Regions from separate parts of the Homo sapiens genome. Here region 2 is linked to region 1. Evidence: fine-mapped expression QTL. A gene starts in region 1. The other region holds a variant in brackets. All regions are shown on one strand. Distances are from middle to middle. Region 1 holds the start of EPHX2 (epoxide hydrolase 2). Region 2 overlaps EPHX2 (epoxide hydrolase 2).

The links.
Region 2: its variant is fine-mapped to the expression of EPHX2 in whole blood (INTERVAL, PIP 0.92).

What each region holds. Positions count from the first base shown.
Region 1 is chr8:27,486,732-27,498,413 of GRCh38, reverse strand. EPHX2 (epoxide hydrolase 2) reads right to left here and starts at 7,271. Exons shown (of 19, transcript NM_001979.6): 1 at 7,105-7,271. The coding sequence starts at 7,205. RefSeq lists a silencer at 7,188-7,467 and a cis regulatory region at 9,214-9,528.
Region 2 is chr8:27,540,481-27,552,162 of GRCh38, reverse strand. It overlaps EPHX2 (epoxide hydrolase 2), which reads right to left. Exons shown (of 19, transcript NM_001979.6): 15 at 11,507-11,609; 16 at 10,621-10,690; 17 at 8,334-8,414; 18 at 7,919-7,977; 19 at 6,599-7,719. The coding sequence ends at 7,641. Among named protein-coding and RNA genes, the nearest start is that of EPHX2, 55 kb to the right of the region's middle. The variant C/T (reference allele first, on the strand shown) is at 5,555.

The sequences.
Region 1 (11,682 bases):
CAACTTGATACAACAAGAACATTCTTGGTATTGGAAACATGAGCTTACCTCCATATCCTAGCCTAGCTCCAGCTCCTCTTCCTGTTAATGATAAGCCTCCTCTAATCTCCCCCACTCAGAAGGAAACAAGCAAAGAAATCTCCAAGGGACCATAAAACCCCCGGGCTATCGGTTATGTCCCCTTCAAGCTGTAGGGGGAGGGGAATTTGGCCCAACCTGGGTATATATCCCCTTCTCCCTCTCTGATTTAAAGCAGATCAAGGTAGACCTGGGGAAGTTTTCAGATGATACTGATAGGTATATAGATGTCCTACAGGGTCTAGGGCAAACCTTCGACCTCACTTAGAGAGATGTCATGCTATTGTTAGATCAAACCCTGCCCTTTAATGAAAAGAATGCGGCTTTAGCTGCAGCCTGAGAGTTTGGTATCTTAGTCAAGTAAATGGTATCTTAGTCAAGTAAATGACAGAATGACAGCCAAAGAAAGGGACAAATCCCTACCGGTCAACAAGCCGTCCCCAGTATGGATCTCCACTGGGACCTAGACTCAGATCATGGGGACTGGAGTCGCAAACATCCGTTGACCTGTCTTCCAGAAGGACTAAGGAGAATTAGGAAAAAGCCCATGAATTATTCAATGATGTCCACCATAACTCAGGAAAAGGTAGAAAATCCTACTGCCTTCCTTGAGCGGCTACAGGAGGCCTTAAGAAAATATACTCCCCTGTCACCTGACTCCCTCGAGGGTCAATTGATTCTAAAAGATAAGTTTATTACCCAATCAGCCGCAGATATCAGGAAAAAGCTCCAAAAGCTATCCCTGGGCCCTGAACAAAATTTGGAGGCATAATTAAACCTGGCAACCTTGGTGTTCTACAATAGGGACCAAGAGGAACAGGCCAAAAAGGAAAAGTGAGATAAGAGAAAGGCCGCAGCCTTAGTCATGTCCCTCACACAAACAAACCTTGGTGGTTCAGAGAAGACAGAAAACAGAGCAGGCCAATCACCCAGTAGGGCTTGTTATCAGTGTGCTTTGCAAGGACACTTTAAAAAAGATTGTCCAACAAGAAACAAGCTGCCCCCTCACCCATGTCCACTATGCCAAGGCAATCACTGGAAGGCACACTGCCCCAGAGGACAAAGGTTCTCTGGGCCAGAAGCCCCCAACCGGATGATCCAACAACAGGACTGAGGGTGCCCAGGGCAAGTGACAGCTCATGTCATCACCCTGACTGAGCCCCAGGTAAGTTTAACCATTGAGGGCCAGGAAATTGACTTCCTCCTGGACACTGGTGCAGACTTCTCAGTGTTAATCTCCTACCCCAGATGGCTGTCCTCAAGGTCTGTTACCATCCAAGGAATCCTGGGACAGCCTGTAACCAGCTATTTTTCCCACCTTCTCAGTTGTAATTGGGAGACTTTGCTCTTTTCACACACCTTTCTTGTTGTGCCTGAAAGTTCCACACCCTTATTAGGGAGGGACATATTAGCCAAAGCTAGAGATATTATCTCTATAAATATGGGGAACAAGTTACCCATTTGTTGTCCCCTACTTGAGGAGGGAATCAACCCTGAAGTCTGGGCATTGAAAGGACAATTCGGAAGGGCAAAAAATGCCTGCCCAGTCCAAATCAGGTTAAAGACCCCACCACTTTTCCTTATCAAAGGCAATATCCCTTAAGGCCTGAAGCTCATAAAGGATTACATGATATTTTTAGACATTTAAAAGTTCAAGGCTTAGTAAGAAAATGCAGCAGTCCCTGCAACACCCCAATTCCAGGAGTACAAAAACCGAACGTTCAGTGGAGACTAGTACAAGATTTTAGACTCATCAGTGAGGCAGTAATTCCTCTATATCCAGCTATACCCAACCCCTATACCCTGCTCTCTCAAATACCAGAGGAAGCAGAATGGTTCATTGTTCTGGACCTCAAGGATGCCTTCCTCTGCATTCTCCTGCACTCTGACTCCAAGGTTCTCTTTGCCTTTGAGGATCCCACAGACCACACGTCCCAACTTTCGTGGATGGTCTTGCCTCAAGGGTTTAGGGATAGCCTTCATCTGTTTGGTCAGGCACTGGCCCAAGATCTAGGCCACTTCTCAAGTACAGGCACTCTGGTCCTTCAGTATGTGGATGATTTACTTATGGTTACCAGTTCAAAAGCCTCATGCCAGCAGGCTACTCTAGCTCTCTTGAACTTTCTAGCTAATCAAGGGTACATGGCATCTAAACTGAAGGCCCAGCTCTGCCTACAAGTCAAATATCTAGGCCTAATCTTAGCCAGAGGAACCAGGGCTCTAAGCAAAGAATGAATACAGCCTATACTGGCTTGTCCTTGCCCTAAGACATTAAAACAGTTGTGGGGGTTCCTTGGGATCACCAGCTTTTGCCGACTATGGATCCCCAGATACAGCGAGATGGCCAGGCCACTCTATGCTCTAATCAAGGAGACCCAGAGGGCAAACACTAATCTAGTAGAATGGGAACCAGAGGCAGAAACAGCCTCCAAAACCTTAAAGCAGGCCCTAGTACAAGCTCCAGCTTTAAGCCTTCCCAAAGGACAAGACTTCTCTTTATACATCACAGAGAGAGCAGGAATAGCTCTTGGAGTCCTTACTCAGACTCGTGGGACAACCCCACAACCAGTGGCATACCTAAGTAAGGAAACTGATGTAGTGGCAAAAGGCTGGCCTTACTGTTTATGGGTAGTTGCAGCAGTGGCCATCTTAGTATCGGAGGCTATCAAAATAATACAAAGAAAGGATCTCACTGTCTGGACTACTAATGATGTAAATGGCATACTAGGTGCCAAAGGAAATTTATGGCTGTCAGACAACTGCCTGCTTAGATACCAGGCGCTTGTGTGTGGCCCTGAACCCTGCCACTTTTCTCTCAGAGGATGGGGAACCAATCGAGCATGAATGCCAACAAATTGTAGCCCAGACTTATGCTGCCCGAGATGATCTCTTAGAAGTCCCCTTAGCTAATCCTGACCTTAACCTATATACCAATGGAAGTTCATTTGTGGAGAATGGGATATGAAGGGCAGGTTATACCATAGTTAGTGATGTAACAGTACTTGAAAGTAAGCCTCTTTCCCCAGGGACCTGCACCCAGTTAGCAGAACTAGTGGTGCTTACCTGAGCCTTAGAACTGGGAAAGAAAAAAAAATAAATGTGTATACAGATAACAAGTATGCTTATCTAATCCTACATGCCCAATGCTGCAATATGGAAAGGGGGTTCCTAACCTCCAGGGGAACCCCCATTAAATACCACAAGGAAATCATGGAGTTATTGCACGCAGTGCAAAAACCCAAAGAGGTGGCAGTCTTACACTGCCAAAGCCATCAAAAGGTGAAGGAGAAAAGGCAGAAGAAAACCATTAGGCAGACACTGAGGCCAAAATTGCTGCCAGGTGGAACCTCCCATTAGAAATACCTACGGAAGGACCCTTGGTATGGAACAACCCTCTCCAAGAGATTAAGCCCCAGTATTCCCCAACCGAAACAGAATGAGGACTTTCATGGGGGCATAGTTTTCTCCCCTCCAGGTGGTTAACAACAGAAGAGGGAAAGGTACTCATGCCCGAAGCCAGCCAGTGGAAAATACTTAAGACCCTCCACCAAACTTTTCATATGGGTATTGAGAACACTCATCAAATGGCCAAATCCCTATTTACAGGGCCAAATCTCCTTCAGACCATCCAACAAGTAGTCAAAGCCTGTGAGGTGTGCCAAAGGAATAATCCCTTGGTCCATCATAAGGCCCCTCTGGGGGAACAAAGAATAGGGCACTATCTAGGAGAAGACTGGCAGTTAGACTTCGCCCATATGCCTAAGTCAAGGGGATTTCAATACTTGTTGGTCTGTGTTGATACCTTTGCAAATTGGATGAAGCCTTGTCCTGCAAGACAGAGAAGGCTCAAGAAGTGGTTAAAGTCCTAATTCATGAAGTAATTCCTAGATTTGGGCTTCCCCAAAGCTTACAAAGTGACAATGGTCTGGCTTTTAAAGCCATGGTAACTCAGGGAGTTTCCAGGGCACTAGAGATACAATATCACCTTCACTGTGCCTGGAGGCCACAATCCTCAGGAAAAGCCCATACAAGACCTTGTGACCACGAATACCGAATACCATCTTAACTTTCCAAGCCCTTTTATGCATCCAACACAACCTGTTATCAGGCCTGCCCCTGGGGCACCTACTATCCCATCAGTGTAATTACACCCTATAACTTCAAGCCCCAACTGATCATAGTAACTCCTGAGTCACCCAAACACCTCCATTCAGATGGCTTGTCTGCTTCTCAGGGCCCCCCAAAATCATCACCTCCTCCCTGTTTAACAAACAGTCTGGGTTTTGTAATGGCAAACATACTCCCTGCATGACCATTCACCCCTGGACCCCCTGCAGCAGCGCCCCCACCACTAGTGTATGTCTTCTTATCCCCTCTTTCAATTACTCTCTTGGATGGTTCCTAGTAGATACAAAACGGTTTTTTCTCCAATGGGAAAATAGAGCACAGGGAGCCACTCAGTCTGCTCCCAACACCCTTTCCAGCTGCTCACCAGAGCTACCTTGGCAAGTACTCTAGGAGTGTGGGAAAATGAAAACAAACTCACACACCTTTTTAACATACACAACCAGTTTATTCTACCCAGCCAAGGCATATTCTTCTTATGTGGAACTTCAACCTATATCTGCCTCCCACCAGCTGGACAGGCACCTGCACCTTCTCCTAAGTCCCAACACTAACAATGCCACAGGAAATCAGACCCTATCAGTGCCCCTCAAAGCTCAAGTCTGTCAGCCCAGGACCATACAACTAATACCCCTACTTATAGGGCTAGGAATGCCCACTGCTACAGGAACCAGAATAGCCAGTTTAACTACTTCATTATCCTACTACCATACACTCTCAAAGGATTTCTCAGACAGTTTGCAATAAATAAATCTATCCTTACTCTACAATCCCAAATAGACTATTTGGCAACAGTGACTCTCCAAAACCGCTAAGGTCTAGACCTCCTCACTGCTGAGAAAGGAGGACTTTGCACCTTCTTAGGGGAGGAGTGTTGTTTTTAAACTAACCAGTCAGGGATAGTACAGGATGCTGCCTGGCATTTACAGGAAAAGGCTTCTGAAACCAGACAACACCTTTCAAATTCTTATACCAACCTCTGGAGTTGGGTGACTTGGCTTCTCCCCTTTCTAGGTCCCGTGACAGCCATCTTGCTATTACTCACCTTCAGTCCCTGTATTTTTAACCTCCTCCTCAAATTTGTTTCCTCCAGGATCAAGGCCATCAAGCTACAGATGGTCTTACAAATGGAACCCCAAATGAGCTTAACTCACAACTTCTACCGAGGACTGCTAGACTGACCCACTGGCCCTTTGACTGGCCTAGAGAGTTCCCCTCTGGAGGACACTACAACGGCAGGGCCCCTTCTTTGCCCCTATCCAGCAGGAAGTAGCTAGAGTGGTCATCACCCAGTTCCCAGTAGCAGGTGGGGTGTCCTGTTATGAGGGAGGATTGAGAGGTGAGGCCAGCTGGACTTCCTAGGTCGAGTGGGGACTTGGGGAACTTTCCTGTCTTACAAGAGAATTGTAAAATGCACCAATCAGCGCTCTGTAAAACGCACAATCAGCAGCATTCTAAAAGTAGCCAATCACGGGGAGGATTGAAAAAAGGGCACTCTGATAGGACAGAAATGGAACATGGGAGAGGACAATAAGGGAATAAAAGCTGGCCACCCCAGCCAGTAGCGGCAACCTGCTGGGGTCCCCTTCCATGCTGTGGAAGCTTTGTGCTTTCGCTGTTCACGATAAACCTTGCTATCACTCACTCTTTGGGTCTGCGCCATCTTTACGAGTGTAACACTCACTGCGAAGGTCCACAGCTCCATTCTTGAAGTCAGCAAGACCACGAACCCACCGACAGGAACCAACTCTGGACACAACTATAGCCTCCAACTCCTGGGCTCAGGCAATCCTTCTGCCTTAGCCTCCCAAGTAGCTGGGGCTACATGCATGCACTAATGTCTAGCTAATTTTATTTTTATTTTTGGAGAGACAGGGTCTTGCTCTTTCACCCAGGCTGGTCTTGAACTCTCAGCCTCAAGTGATCCTCCCACCTTAGCTTCCCAAAGCACAGAGATTACATGCCTTTCCCTCAAGCTACTTGCCATCTCATCTTCCTTACTATATTAAAAGCAAAGGCTCCGGACATGGACTACTGGGGTTGGATTTCTGGCTCTGCTCTTTAACAGCTATGTGATTTGGACAGCTGGTTTCTTTCTGTGCCTCAGTTTCCTCATATGTAAAAGGAGGATATGAACAATGGCTTCCATGCCTGGCCTTCTTTTTCACTTTATAAATAAGTATACTTCTCTCCTTTCTGAATGTGGGAATAATACATTGTTTATAAATTTAGAAGTTGGAAACTACAAAAAAAAAAAACACAAAAAAAAGAGAGAGAGAAAGAAAATCATTACATTATTCCTAATCTCATTTGATGTACTTTGGCCTATTTCTTTCAGGCACTTTTCTGCATGTACCTTTTTTCCATAGCTGAAACCATATTGTATAAATAGCTTCAGATTCTGGTGGGGTGGTTTTTTCATGTAGTAGAACAGGTGTTTTCCCAAGTCCCTGAGCTCTCACTCTGCACACCCCATCTACCATTTCCCAGTGATGTGGCTTTGGGCGGTTGCTGCAGTTTGCTATTACACAAGTAAGCATGCAACCCACACCTGGGGAGAGAACTTTCTTCTCTCCTGAATCTCGGCTCGCATCTTTAAGCGCCACCCCATTAGACAGGAGGCAGCAGAAGCACAAAGCTCCATGAGTAACTCCTCTCCCTTTTGGAAAAGTTCACAGAAAGCAATTTTGGAGACCTTGGCAACGTTTAATTATGAACATTTAGAAAGACAACGGATCTCCTCATATGCACTGGGACTTCAGGGCCAGGTCTTCAGTTTCATGATTCGCATGATTCGCAGGGCTCCGGCACAGGAGCAATCTGAAAGCTGGGCTGCAAGCCCAGCGCGGTCTGCCTCCTGAGGCCCCGACCCACTGCGGCGGCGGCGCTGGGCCCCCTTACCTGGGCAGCGCCAGGGCCTCCTCCGTGCGGCCGAGGACGCCGAACACCGCTGGCAGCGCCAGCACCCCGTCAAGGTCGAAGACGGCCGCGCGCAGCGTCATGGCGGCGGGTCTGCAGCCTAGCACCCGGACACGCAGCTAACCTGGGAGATGCGCGAAGGCCAGGGCGCATGACCCGCCCAGCTTGGCCCGGCTCTGCCCCGCCCCTGCCCTGGCCCCGCCTCCTCCCCACACCCCCTTAACGGGACTCCGCCCTCTGCCCGGGTTAAGGCTGGACTCTGGCCGGGAAAGAGGCAGGGGGAGGGGCACAGGAAAGGGAGTCAGAGGGAGAGGAAGAGGAGGCCGGGAAGGCGGGGACCCCAGGCTAGAATCTCGCCTCTGGATGTAACGCTTTCTACTGTCTCAAAGGAAAGTCCAAAGTCTCTTATGCCCCCTCCCCACGCCCCTGCAGTAGCTGCTTGAAGAGGCAAACCCAGGCCCGGGCCTTCCTGGACGGACTGACAGCTCCCTGCGAACTTGCTGGACTTGGAATGCCTGGGAAAGAGGCCACAGACTCTGTGTGTGTGTGTGTGTGTGTGTGTGTGTGTGTGTGTGTGTGTGTGTGTGTGTGTCAGCACATCCAGTGACTTCTACATTCAGAACATAAGACCGTGTTGGGGGGCGGGGGAGGGGCATATCCAGTGACTTTTCTAGATTCAGAACGAAGGATCACAGATCCCTCACTATCCTGACCACTCCTCTAGGCACGCTCTTCTTTGCCAAGGCAAATGTGTTTCTAGAATAAAATATGATGTTCCAGCTATCGTGTGCCAGCCCAGAATACTTCGATTTCAATCTCTTGTGGAATGAAGCTTAGAAGAACTAAATGTAGGCTATTATTTTCCTTTTGTACATGCTACTTGTAATAATTCTGTCTTAAAATGTGCGAGGTTTGTTTTTAATCACCGATTTCCACACTATTGGCTCGTTTATGTTCCTAGAAAAACTAAAACTTTGGCTGGGAGTTCTTGAGCTGTTGTAGTGCAGCTCCATGAATTAAAAACCGTGTCTTTGGTGGAGACCAAACAGAGTGAGTGAGGTCTCCAACAGTGGAGAATTTACTCTTGAATGTGTCTCTGTGGATTTATCCAAGATACCCTCCACCACGGAGCTTCAAGAACCTTGTGAGGGGTTGTCAGATACCTCACTGTAACTGGGAGGTCTACAACAGTCTCTGGATCTAGCAATCAACAACAGGATTGACCAGAGCCGTGGGTTTCCTCTGGGCTGTTTGCCCTTAGCAAGCTATGCTGTTGCTTCCTTCTCTAGCTTGGTAACCTCTTCCAGGCTCCTGCCTGGAGCAGTTATTAGTGTTTTCTGAGATTCTTGCCAAAGAAGCAGAGAGTGGCCAACACTGCCAAATGTTACAGGAAGAACTGAAAAAAAAGCTGTCCAATTTTGGACTTGGATGACACCGGATGTTTCAGAACACTTTTTGTGGGCCCTTTATGGTAGAAACTGGATTACTCTGGATTTGAAGACTGAAAGATAGGCAGAGAAGGGAGTACAGCAAGCTAGTTTCTCATGAAGTTAGTTGATCTCAAAGGTATAATTGAATTTTAAAAAATAGAAAGAAAATTGCAGCCTGACCTATATAGTATGAAACCTGTTAAATCTCCAGATTGGGCATGGTGGCACACACCTGTAATCCCAGCACTTTGGGGCTGAGGTGGGAGAATTGCTTGAGGCCAGGAGTTTGAGACAAGCCTGGGCAACAAAGCAAGACATTCTCTCTATAAAAAATAAAAATAAAATATTAGCTAGGCATGGTGGTGCATGCCAGTAGTCTCTGCTATTCAGGAGGCTGAGGTGGGACGATCACTTTAGCCCAGGAAGTGGAGGCTGCAGTGAGCCATGATTGTGCCACTGCACTCCATCCAGCCTGGGTGACACAGCAAGACTCTACCTCCAAAAAAAAAAAAGAAAGAAATTAAATCTCCAACTTAGAGTTTCCTTTGGGCTCCAGACTTGCCAACTTCTTACTCAACATCTTACTCAACGTCAATATCCAACTTCTTACTGAACATCTTCTCTTGAGTGTCTAACAGGCATCTCAAATTTATCATGGCTAAAACAGAACTCTCTCTGCATTTCTACTTCCCACGCCTGTTCCTCCTAGTGTGTTCCCTATCTTACAAACTGGCATCCCCATTGACTCAGTGGCTCAGTCCCGAGACCACGGAGTTGCTTCCAGATCCTTGGCTCCCAGCCAAACCATATGTTCGTGTTTCTAGCGGTGGCCTGCTGATTGAGGCAGAGATAGCAGCTTCTAGTTCTATGGTGGTGTTTTCTGGGAGTCCTTCCTAAAGGCTCAGTCTGGAGCTCACTCCTCCATTCCGTTCAAAGATTGTGTAGGCTTGCAGTCTCTCATCTTAAATCCCTTTCTTCTGTTTCTATTTAAAATAACTACAGTGATTTCTGTTGCCTGCATCTGAATTCTGCATCTAGCACAGTATTGCTTATGAATACGTAAGTATATTTATACAAGCAGTAAAGTGTAGAGGAACGACATACCTACAGAACTAGATTTCATAAAGCCCCCTTTTGAGAAGAAAAATTTAAAAACATAGAAATATGAGTTTTACTTTCCTCTTTGGTTAAGAGAAAGCCATGAAGCTATCACATGGACTTTTATTTATTCAGGAGCAGTTAACTTGTAAATAGCTCTGGTGTGGAATATTTTTATAATGCCTTGTGAGTTACAGAGCTTTCTGGCTGAATTGCTTAGGCAAAGATTAAAGGTCTCAATTGCATTTCACTGCACTTTGCCCTTTTTCATGGTCGTGCTTCTCCTGTGTTTTCTGCTACTAAGGTACAGAGAGATAAGGGCTTACCCAGCAGGGCTATGGGAACTGGGTGGCTTTTTGAAATGTAAATCCTAACCCCTATGTCTTCTAATTTTAATATTTATGAAATATGTTTTAGGTGATAGCATGAATCATAAAAGATGGCTAATGTAGTAGTGAAAATTTATAAATTACACCTGATTTCAATCACTAAATTCATAATGAATGTACACTGACCTCATTAAGGTTTATTTTGGGTTTTCTGCCATTCCTGTGCCTTCTGCAACTTCCTGCTAGTCCTTGATTGTCAAACCCTATTTTATAAAATCTGTTTAACCACTAGGGGTTGGGAGGGAGGACTTTACACTGCTGCTTCTCTCTACTGTAGATACTCATGGAGTTCAAAGTAAAGCTACCTCTGGCAGTTTTCTAAACCTACAAACCACTTGAAGTTTTGTCTTTTTTTCAATGCGGCAAATGAACGAGCGTCTTTCATTCCATCAGCAAATATGTATCAAGCATCTTCTATGTGCCAGGCACTGTTCTAGGCACTTGGGATCAATTGTTAAATAAATCAGACAAATATAGGGGCCGTCAAGGATCTTCCATTTTAGTGGAATAATGAATTCAAATGGTAGTGGCTGGTGGCTTCTGGAGCAGTGAGAAGAATGAGATTGGGAATAGTGGTGGTGGCTACTTGCCGTTTTTCTTATTTGTCATTTTCCAGCTTCCTAACATCTATAACCTTTTCTTACATACAGAAAATTCCAGCCGGGCATGGTGGCTCACACCTGTAATCACAGCACTTTGGGAGGCTGAGGTGGGTGGATCACCTGAGGTTAAGAGTTGGAGACCAGCCTGGCCAACATGGGGAAACCCCGTCTCTATTAAAAATACGAAACTTATCTGGGCGTGGTGGCACACACCTGTAATCCCAGCTACTTGGGAAGCTGAAGCAGGAGAATTGCTTGAACCCGGGAGGCAGAGGTTGCAGTAAGCCAAGATCATGCCACTGCACTCGCAGCCTGGGCAACAGAGCAAGACTCTGTCAAAAGAAAGAAAAGAAAAGAGAAGAGAAGAGAAGAGAAAAGAGAAGAGAAGAGAAGAGAAGAGAAGAGAAGAGAAGAGTAGAGTAGAGAAGAAGAGAAAATTCCATCTGGCAGTGATGAAGTTCTGCTTCAGAGATACACAACATCCTTTCAACATCTTCTATTTTGATAGTTCTCACTGTTTGAGAACTACTACTGTTTTGAGTTCTACCTTCTCACAGTAGAATCCACAAACAACATGTTGCCCAGGCTTCCTTAATGCTGGCCAGGTGCACGGGCTCTGCCAATTGGGCATACTCGCCAGGGATTTGGGAATGGGGATGGGCAGCCCAAAGCCACAGCTGTGTGAGCGGGAACTTTCTTTCAGCGAAGGCAGAAGCAGCAGCATCTAGTTTTTCTGGGGAGGCTGTGATGGAGCTTCTCTGGTCTGGTCCTGAGTGTACTTGGTGCCCACGCTGGGGCAGAGTGGTGGCTTTGTTAAAATTGCACCAAGGGGTGGCCTGCGGTCACTGTGCTGTTCTTGGCTATATAGTTTCCAAAGCTGCATCTCTTGTCCTCCCTGAGATTCTGTGTGTTAATGTCCTATAATAAGAACCTTTCTGCTTATATGACCGAGAGGAAGCTCTGTAGTTTGTAATAAAAACCCTATAACGCATACCGGCCTTATGAATGTTGATAGAAGGAAGAACCGCATTGACTGCAGAA
Region 2 (11,682 bases), 54 kb before region 1:
AGAAATGGATAAATTCCTTGACACATACATCTCCCAAGACTAAACCAGGAAGAAGTTGAATCTCTGAATAGACCAATAACAGGCTCTGAAATTGTGGCAATAATCAATAGCTTACCAACCAAAAAGAGTCCAGGACCAGATAGATTCACAGCTGAATTCTACCAGAGGTACAAGGAGGAACTGGTACCATTCCTTCTGAAACTATTCCAATCAATAGAAAAAGAGGGAATCCTCCCTAACTCATTTTATGAGGCCAGCATCATCCTGATACCAAAGCCGGGCAGAGACACAACCAAAAAAGAGAATTTTAGACCAATATCCTTCATGAACATTGATGCAAAAATCCTCAATAAAATACTGGCAAACCAAGTCCAGCAGCACATCAAAAAGCTGATCCACCATGATCAAGTGGGCTTCATCCCTGGGATGCAAGGCTGGTTCAATATATGCAAATCAATAAATGTAATCCAGCATATAAACAGAACCAAAGACAAAAACCACATGATTATCTCAATAGATGCACAAAGGCCTTTGACAAAATTCAACAACTCTTCATGCTAAAAATTCTCAATAAATTAGGTACTGATGGGACATATTTCAAAATAATAAGAGCTATCTATGACAAACCCACAGCCAATATCATACTGAATGGGCAAAAACTGGAAGCATTCCCTTTGAAAACTGGCACAAGACAGGGATGCCCTCTCTCACCACTCCTATTCAACATAGTGTTGGAAGTTCTGGCCAGGGAAATTAGGCAGGAGAAGGAAATAAAGGGTATTCAATTAGGGAAAGAGGAAGTCAAATTGTCCCTGTTTGCAGATGACATGATCCTATATCTAGAAAACCCCATTGTCTCAGCCCAAAATCTCCTTAAGCTGATAAGCAACTTCAGCAAAGTCTCAGGATACAAAATCAATGTACACAAATCACGAGCATTCTTATACACCAACAACAGACTGTAAACAGAGAGCCAAATCATGAGTGAACTCCCATTCACAATTGCTTCAAAGAGAATAAAATACCTAGGAATCCAACTTACAAGGGATGTGAAGGACCTCTTCAAGGAGAACTACAAACCACTGCTCAAGGAAATAAAAGAGGATACAAACAAATGGAAGAACATTCCATGCTCACGGGTAGGAAGAATCAATATCGTGAAAATGGCCATACTGCCCAAGGTAATTTACAGATTCAATGCCATCCCCATCAAGCTACCAATGATTTTCTTCACAGAATTGGAAAAAACTACTTTAAAGTTCATATGGAACCAAAAAAGAGCCCGCATCGCCAAGTCAATCCTAAGCCAAAAGAACAAAGCTGGGGGCATCACACTACCTGACTTCAAACTATACTACAAGGCTACAGTAACCAAAACAGCATGGTACTGGTACCAAAACAGAGATATAGATCAATGGAACAGAACAGAGCCCTCAGAAATAACGCCGCATATCTACAACTATCTGATCTTTGACAAACCTGAGAAAAACAAGCAATGGGGAAAGGATTCCCTATTTAATAAATGGTGCTGGGAAAACTGGCTAGCCATATGTAGAAAGCTGAAACTGGATCCCTTCCTTACACCTTATACAAAAATCAATTCAAGATGGATTAAAGACTTAAACGTTAGACCTAAAACCATAAAAACCCTAGAAGTAAACCTAGGCATTACCATTCAGGACATAGGCATGGGCAAGGACTTCATGTCTAAAACACCAAAAGCAATGGCAACAAAAGCCAAAATTGACAAATGGAATCTAATTAAACTAAAGAGCTTCTACACAGCAAAAGAAACTACCATCAGAGTGAACATGCAACCCACAAAATGCGAGAAAATTTTTGCAACCTACTCATCTGACAAAGGGCTAATATCCAGAATCTACAATGAACTCCTATAAATTTACAAGAAAAAACAAACAACCCCATCAAAAAGTGGGTGAAGGACATGAACAGACACTTCTCAAAAGAAGACATTTATGCAGCCAAAAAACACATGAAAAAAATGCTCACCATCACTGGCCATCAGAGAAATGCAAATCAAAACCACAATGATATACCATCTCACACCAGTTAGAATGGCAATCATTAAAAAGTCAGGAAACAACAGGTGCTGGAGAGGATGTGGAGAAATAGGAACACTTTTACACTGTTGGTGGGACTGTAAACTAGTTCAACCATTGTGGAAGTCAATGTGGCGATTCCTCAGGGATCTAGAACTAGAAATACCATTTGACCCAGCCATCCCATTACTGGGTATATACCCAAAGGACTATAAATCATGCTGCTATAAAGACACATGCACACGTATGTTTATTGCGGCATTATTCACAATAGCAAAGACTTGGAACCAACCCAAATGTCCAACAATGATAGACTGGATTAAGAAAATGTGGCACACAGACACCATGGAATACTATGCAGCCATCAAAAATGATAAGTTCATGTCCTTTGTAGGGACATGGATGAAATTGGAAATCATTATTCTCAGTAAACTATCGCAAGAACAAAAAACCAAACACCGCATATTCTCACTCATAGGTGGGAATTGAACAATGAGAACACATGGACACAGGAAGGGGAACATCACACTCTGGGGACTATTGTGGGTGGGGGGAGAGGGGAGGAATAGCATTGGGAGATATACCTAATGCTAGATGACGAGTTAGTGGGTGCAGCACACCAGCATGGCACATGTATACATACATATGTAACTAACCTGCACATTGTGCACATGTACCCTAAAACTTAAAGTATAATAATAATAAATAAATTTAAAAAAAGGAAAGATATTCAACATCACTAATCATTAGGGAAATTCAAATAAAACCATCATGGGACATCACATGGCCATTCTATATATTAAAAAAACAGAAAATGGAAACCAGCTATGGAAAACCATCTGGTGGTTCTTCAAAATATTAAACATAGAAATTACAATATAATCTAGCCATTCCATTTTTTGATATATACCCAAAAGGACTGAATTCAGAGCCCTAAAGAGATATGTGTACACTGATGCTCAGAGCATTATTCATAATAGCCAAAATATGGAAGCCATCCAAGTGCCCATTGCTGAATGAGTAGGTAAACAAAACGTGGTCTATACATACAATGGAATATTATTTGGCCTTAAAAAGAAAGAAAATTCCAACACATGCGACAACATGAATGAACCTCGAGGACATTAGGCTATTTATTTATTTATAGAGATGGAATTTCCCTCTTGTCGCCCAGGCTGGAGTGCAATGGCATGATCTTGGTTCACTGCAACCTCCGCCTCTGGGTTCAAGCGATTCTTCTGCCTCAGCCTCCCAAGTAGCAGAGATTACAGGTGCCCACCACCACACCTAGCTAATTTTGTATTTGTAGTAGAGATGGGGTTTTGCCATATTAGCTGGGCTGGTCTTGAACCCCTGACCTCAGGTGATCCGCCCGCCTCGGCCTCCCAAATTGCTGGGATTACAGATGTGAGCCACCATGCCCGATCAAATTTTAATTATTTTAACTTGAAACTAATGCATTTGTCCATTCATCCATTTGTGCATATACTCTCCAATTTATTCAGCAAACGTCTAATGAGCATTTTACATATGCCAGGCCAGTGCTGGGTTGGGTTTCAGGACGAATTACTTAGACAGGCAGCCCCCGATCTCAGGGCCCTCACAGTCTAACAGGGAGACAGACAGTTACACATTTGGGTGCAGGAGTTGACACTTTACAATTGCTCAGGCAAGAAAGTATTTTATCATTTGTGGCCAGATGGAGTCCTTTGAACAGTGAGGCATAATATTTGTCACCCAATTCCTGTTGGAAAAAAACCCTTTGAGCCTCTGACCTAGATATTTTAACCATTGTTTGCTTTTAATTTGTATTGATGGTAATGTGGCTGTGAACGACACGGAAACTGGTGGACAGTCATGTCAAGGTCTAAAACCGTGGGTTCCCTATACCCCAAGACAGACAGAAATAGCTTTTTGTCCTGTCTAGTCTAATAGACTCACTTTTTAGAAGACGGGTCTCCTGGAAACCTTGGATGTTGCTAATTGACAGCCACTAAGTGGTCCTTCCTTGACAGAATATGTGAGTGATCTCAGCCTCCTCCCGGGAGCAGCACAACCCACTGCTGGAGGGTGTGAGAGAGAATATGAAGACTGCTGGACCTCTTTTTTAAGGGCCGATTTCTTTTAGCAGAGGGGAATATACTTGTAATCTATTCCCTTTGTAATCATGAAATAAAAATAACATATTTTTACTATTCAGCCACAAAAAAAGAATGAAATCTTGTCTCTCGCAGCAACGCGGATGGAAATGGAGAGCATTCTGTTAAGTGAAATAAGCCAGAAACAGAAAGTGAAACACCACATGTTCTCACTCACATGCAGAAGCTAAAAAAAAATTCATTTCCTAGAAGTAAAAAGTAGAATGGAGGATAGGAGGCTGGGAAGGGTTGGGGAAGAGGTGGGGGATAGGGAGGGATTTAAGGAATGTCAAATTCCAGCTAGATGGGAGGAGTAAGTTCTAGCGTTGTATAGCACTGAGCAATGACTACAGTCAACAATGATACATTGTTTTAAATAGCCAGAAGGAGGTTATTAAATGTCCTCAATACAAAAACGATAAATGTTTGAGATGACATGTGTAATTACCCTGATCTGATTGCTACACATTATATGTATCAAAACATCACTATGTACCCCATGAATATGTACTAGTATGTTAATTACAAATTAAATTCAATCCCAAAATATAGCATTTTATAATTAAATCATTTTGAACACACTCCTTGCCATTTGTACTTAAAATGGCATCTGAAAATCTTCCCTGATTGTTCCAGGGAATGCCCTGATACCACCACTGCAACAGTTGACGTGTGGCCCAAAGGTCCTCAAAGCAGACCAGGAAACATAGCCCTGGACATTCCACTATCTTCTTGAAAAACCTAAAGACCTCTTCCAGTCCACTGTCCTTTATGGCCCTTGATACGGTTTGGATTTCTGTCCCCACCCAAATCTCACGTCAAATTGTAATCCACGATGTTGGAAGTGGGGCCTGGTGGGCAGTGACTGGATCTTGGGGGCGGATTTCCCCCTTGCTGTTCTCGTGATGGTGAGTTCCCATGAGATCTGGTTGTTTATAAAAGTGTGTAGCACCTCCCCCTTCTCTTTCTCTCTCCCTCCTGTTCTAGACACGTAGGATGTGCCTGCTTCCCCTTCACCGTCTGCCATGATTGTAAGTTTTCTGGAGCCTCCCCAGCCATGCTTTCTGTAAAGCCTGCAGAACCGTGAGCCAATTAAACCTCTTTTCTTTATAAAGTAGCCAGTCTCCAGTAGTTCGTTATGGCAATGGGAGAACAGACCGATACAGCCCTCAATCTTGTATAACCAGTTATATTTTCTGGCAATGCTATGGAATGGAGTTATTCAACTCTTACTTGCCAAAGGAGCAGAATTTCTGAGGCCTTTTTGATGGCTGATGGAGATGACTGGATAGAATATTAAAAGCGAGACTTTCGGGAAGACAGGTTTGCTGTTTGTGCTCCTTCCAGTAAAGGACG[C/T]TTTTAGGTTTTGATTATTTCCTTTCCCCCAACTGCTCCCTTACAAATGAGCTTGAATACACCCAGTTAGGAAAATAATGTGATCTGGTGTAAGCCTTTCCCCCAGTCCTCATGATTGCCTTTAAATTAGCCCTTTAATTCTCAGATGCAAAAGATTGAGATGGTGGTGGCATGGCTGGAAATGGAAAGCCCTTAGAGGTCTTGTCCTAAGACAAACTGGAAATCTTATAGCTGATACTTCCATAGCACTTCCTCCATGCCAAGCACTGTTCTAGAACTCTGTGCATATTATTAACATACTTGATACAACCACCCATGAGTTAGGTCCTACTAACGTCCCCTTTTTTATAGATGAGGGAACTGGGGCACAGATATCCTTTTTCAAGGTCACAAGGCGAGTATGCAGCTGACCGGAGGCCTAACCTAGGTGGTCTGGCTCCAGATTTAGAAAGGAGAACTTCTCTTTTTTTTTTTTTTTTTGAGTCGGAGTCTCAATCTGTTGCCCAGGCTGGAGTGCAGTGGCGCGACGAGAACATTTTTTTGTAGAAAAAGCTCAGCCTTAGGAGCCAGAAAGCCTGCTTCTGAATCCAGGCTCTGCCCCCATCTAGCCAAGCAGTCCTGGGCAAATTATCTGAACCTCAGTTTCCCTCTCGGTTAAATGGGAAGGACTCTCTGGAAGGATCAGAGGTGGTGCATGGAAGACTCCAGGTGCACTAGGGCAGTGAAGAAATGCCAGCAGCCTCCATTTCAAACCTCTCCTGGCTTTCTCCCTATACACAGATACTCAGGCTCTTGTGACCTGGCCAACTCATGCCCGTCATCATGCCAAACTCAGCTTGGAGGGACCACTTTCTCTCGCAAGCAGCGAGGCCATTGTGCGTGCATCTGTGAGCCCGATAACCATGCAAGGGGGGCAGGCAGAAAGGGCTCGGAACCCAGCCTATGGGCTTGGAGGAGGTGGCAGGAGGAATATTCCAGGCAAAGAATGGGTAAGTTAGGCAGAGGGTCAAGGAGGATCAGCACCTGCAAGTGTGCTGCTGGAGGGCGGTTAGGAATTGGAGGGTGATGGGGCCGGGCTGGGGGTGGGCAGGGGCAGTTGGGGGAGGCCCTGCGAGTTTCAGGATCCAACCATGTGGGCGGCAAGACCCGTGAGGAGGCTGCTGCTCCAGGACTCTGGGGCTGGAAGCAGGGCAGGGGAGAGACCACTGCAGGAGACACATCAGTGAGATGGGAGCCTAACCGGATGTGACAGGAGGCAGGAGAGGGTAGAGGGGAAGATAGGGAGGAGGGGGCAGAGGGGAAGATGAGCTGGATCTGCCTGAGCCTCATGGCAGCTGCTGCTATTTAACTTTAAACTGATTACAATTCAATGAAATTTAAAATTCTCTTCCTCAGCCTCACTAGCACATTTCAAATGCTCCAGGTGCACATTTGTGCCTGAGCAAACTCTGCTAGGGAAGCCGGGAGAAAGGCAGGTGGCTACCTGTGGCCAGTGACTGCTCTAGGGGACAGAGCACAAGACACCACTGCCATCCCCATAGGATTGTCTCCTGGCCAGCACGGCCTAGATCATACAGCACCTTGGAGCCCAGAACAGGGCTCAAAAGCAGAGGGAAAGGGTTCATCCCCATGCCGTGCATTCTCCGTGAACAGTCACTCCACCTCTCCAAGAACAAAGACAGCCAGCAGCATAGTCATCTTAGCTTTATTGAGTAAGGCATCCCAATCTCTGCTAAGATTCTTCTAAATGAACGGCTGATTTTTCTGCCAAACTATGCATTGGTCAAAGAGAAATCACCACCTGGCCACCCCATTCTGTCCCCCTACAGGACACTAAGGGTTCTTACAGATAAAGGGACGATGCATTCATGCCTGGAGAACTAATCACACCTGATTTCTCTGGGATCTAAAATAATGTCAAATTTGATTCACTTTATGTAAAGAAAATCTTTTTTTTCTGCAAACCCCTTCAGAACAATGCTGCCATCCATGCAAGATGTGTGTAAGGCCACCTCTGTATACTAAGAATGGTGCCCCAGCAGGTGGAAGGATGGCACACCTGCTGAGCGTGGGCACACGCTGCGTTCTACATCTTTGAGACCACCGGTGGGTTCCGGGCATCAGAATCCAGCCACTTAATGAGGATCTGATTCACCTCGGTTGGCCTGGGGGAAAGGGAGAAGTAAAAGAAAAAAATAGCCATTCACACTTGTCTGCACCTACCCAGCCAACTCGAAGGCAGAGGTGAGTGACATGAGTGGCTAAGCCAGGCCAAAGCCAGCACAATGAAACCAGGAAAGCTTTTATGGAAGGTGAACGGGGGGCCCTGCTCTCCCCGACCCCAGGAGCCCCCAACCTCCTTACTTGTCCATCTGTGTCCAGTGCCCACAGTCCTCAATGTGTCCCCTTTTCAGGTGGGGAATCTGAAAGGAAACCCCAGGCAGAAAGGTAAATGGAAGAAGGCAGATGGGTGTGTCTCTAGCTAGTGCAATGGGCAATGGACGCCTTCTCTCTGCTCCCCGCAGGCCACCCTGCCCAAACCCTGCATGATTTAGGAAGGGAATAATGAATGAATGAGACCCCACATCCATGCAGGGGAAAGGAAGGTACAGTCACGGTTGCTGCTTGCAATGGGGGGACAGTGATGTTACTGATGATGTGCTTCAACCATGGTCCTATCCACATGACAAGGTGTATCTTCTGCTGCCGTCTTCCCTCTGAGCACCCGTGCCCTCTCCCGGGGTGCACTGATGACCCTTGTACAGGGCCATTCCCTCACCCAGTCCTCCATGTGCTGGGACATCTGAGGAACGAGCACGAAGTCCTTCTCCGCCGTGACCATCAGGGCCGGAATCAGGATCTGGGGGGAGAACAGGAAACAGAAGTGGCCAGCACTCCACAAAGGAAGCCCTCCCTCCTCCTCTGAAAGACCCCTGCTCGCCACCCTGCTGTGGTCCTGACGTTGTATCTGCCGAACTTTGCACAACAGACTCGTGGTTATTACTGGAGATCTTTAAAATAACAGCTTCAGCAGTGCAGAGGCCAATATGGGTCTTATGTGTGCAGATGTGTGTGAGTGAGAACGTGTGCTGAGCTGCATGTAACTGGGAGAACCGAATTGATGGCACCAAGAAGGCAGAAGACACCCTTGAATGAAGATCAAGATTCCTCTTCCCTGAATTAAATAGATGCTTAAAAGGGGCGACCAAGGTTCCAGAGAAAATGGGGGCAGCCACAGTAGTAATCAATGTGACATGAATGGCAGCAAAGTAACTTCCAATTGCTGGCAAATGAGTTGAACACAGGGAGGCATGCACAGGAAGGCCAGGAAAGCCTCTGTGTTTTTTCCTTTGTTCTCGCTCCACCATTACCCTAATTTCCAAGCAGCTTTGACCCATCCCTGGTTGAGGAACGTGCACTATTTTCATTTACACCCAGAGTGATGGGCATCTCTCCACACCCCTCCCTCCTCCCACAACCAGGAGCCAGGAGAAGGTCAAAAATGATTTTGTGGCTAAAACGAATCCTGAGGCTTCTATGAGGTTTGTAAACTCTAGAAAGTTCCAAGCTAAAATGTGAACTGGGCGGGGGGCGGGGGGGGGAGAGGATGGGATGGGAGGAGGTGGGGGAGGAGAGAGGAAGATCCAGCTGGAAACTGCAGAAGAGAGGCTGGGTGCAGTGGCTCACGCCTGTCATCCCAGCACTTTGGGAGGCCGAGGTGGGTGGATCGCCTGAGCTCAGGAGTTTGAGACCACCCTGCGCAACATGGTGAAGCCCCATCTCTACTAAAACACAAAAAATTCGCTGGGTGTGGTGGCGCACTCCTGTAATTCCAGCTGCTTGGGAGGCTGAGGCAGGAGAATTGCTTGAACCCAGGGGGCAGAGGTTGCAGTGAACCGAGATCGTGCCATTGCATTCTAGCCTGGGCAACTGAGCAAGACTGTCTCAAAAAATAAACTGCAGAAGAGGAGGGTTTCTGACCTTAGCACCATTGGGATTCACCTTCCCAGCGCCTTTGTCAATATTTTCCTCCACGCTTTGAGAGATTTTGTCTGTCCAACTGCAGTTTGGTCATTTTCATCGGTCATATGATGATAATGACAAGGAACACTAATGGAGCTAATAGGTTCCCAGTACTGCTTGTAACAGGTCACATGCCTTCAACCATTTCATCCTTACACAGCTCTGTGAGGGAGGCACTGTTCTTGCCACTTGCATATTGCAGAAGAAGCCACAGTGGATCAGAGGGGTTAAGTACCTTTCCCAGGGTCACACAGGGATTAGACTCAGCCCATGTGCTTCCTAGCCTGCTCTTAACCACGATGTTATATACTCTAGTGCCTCAAGACTTAATTTTGGGAGGTCAAGACCTGGTCTGTTTACACACCATGGTATCCCAGGGTCTGGCAGGAAGTCTGGCATGTAGCAGTGTGTTCACTTACAGAGTGAACCAACAAGGTAACCATGGCTACTGAGTGAGCTGATGAAGGCCTAGCTACCTGTGCAGTCACACTGGGGAACAGATTTCCCTTAGATTTTTAAACATTTTGAATGTAAACTGGGAACCTCCATTACTCCTTCTGCAGACCCAGAGATTGGAAACTCATCTTCTGCTTGACAAATGAGGAAACTGAGACTCAGAGATTGACTTGTGCAAGGTGACACAACCGAAGGCTAAAGTCACATCTCTGAGAGCACCTAACGCTCCTCTGGGCTGGGGGCTCCAGTATCCATGTCACTTCTGGGAGGTGCCCCAGGCCATCTGCAGCCCTGCCTTGGGGTACCACCAGGGGACCTGGGGATTCCGGATGGATGCTGCAGTTCCCTGGACACACCCCAGCTCCATCCCCAAGGTCACCCTCTACCATCCCAAGAGAAGCACCAGCAAGAAAGATCCTAGGGAAACCCCTGAAGGGAGTCACTTCCCAAACCCCAAAGGGAAAGGAGGTGGCCAGCAGATCTGTCCACAACCAGCTCTGGCCCAGGTCATATCAGCTCAGGCCAATGGGAAGCCCCGCGGGCGGGTCCTGGGGTGTGGATGAGACTACACTGAACCTGGCACTCACCTTCCGTCCCAAGCTTTTGCAAGCCCACTTCCAGTTCCTTTCCATGTTTCGGTACCAGTTTAGAGGACCTCTGGGGAGAGATCAGAAAGTAAAAAGAGGGAGGCAGTAAGTAGACGGCTCTGCTACAGACACCAGCAGAAACCTGCTCTGCACAGCCAGTCGTCCTGGGAAGAGCAAAGCCTCCTGCAGGGGCAAGAGAATAGAGCCCAGGACCCACGCCTTGCTGTCGGGCGCAGTTGCCAAGCTCTAGCAGCAAGGCCTTGTGCAAGGACACAGGACTCCACTGAGTGAACTGGCAGCCTCTAGGTTGGCTTTTGGGACACAAAGAAGCCGGCCCTACAGGACCCTCCAGGGAATGTCATCGTGTCACCTTGGAGGCTGGGGAGGTTGCTGATGGTGGGGAACTTGGTTTAGCAGCCTCACCATCCAGAGGCCACTCGCCTGCCCCAGGGAGCCCACTTGAGAGGGACATTGGGAGGTGGAGCAAAGATGCCCCCTCCTAATATGACATCAGGAAGTAGGGCAAATGCACCAAAATGTATGCACTTTTTGAGTTTATGTGGATTTTTATGTTTTTCTGAAGAAAGAGCCCAGAGTTGCCATCTGATTCTCTGAGGAGCCATGACTAAAAAGTAGTGAAAACCCTCTGCCCTATGGGGGCCCCATAAGCATAAGGAAGAACAAGCTGAGCTATCCCAAACTAGAGCAGGCTGAGCACCATAAAGTAGTGAGCCTCCCGACACTGGAGGCATTGAAGCAGAGGCTGGCCTGGCACTAACGAGGGCTGTGGTGGAGGAGAACTGGGCCTCACCCTCCACCCTGAGGGCTGAAGATCCCTATCTGTCGATCATCTCTCATCTGTGTCTGGGCCCTGTGCTCTCTTTACCTGAAACCAGACTTCTTGAACTGCTGCACATAGAACTGGATTTCCTCCTCAGTGACCATCCTGCTGAGGCTGGGCTCTTCTGGGCTATTTACAAAAAGTCCTCCTGCAAAAAAAGCCACTTGTTGACTTTCCCATCCCCGGGCCAGGTGTCTGCATTTTAAGGTGGGGACCTCATT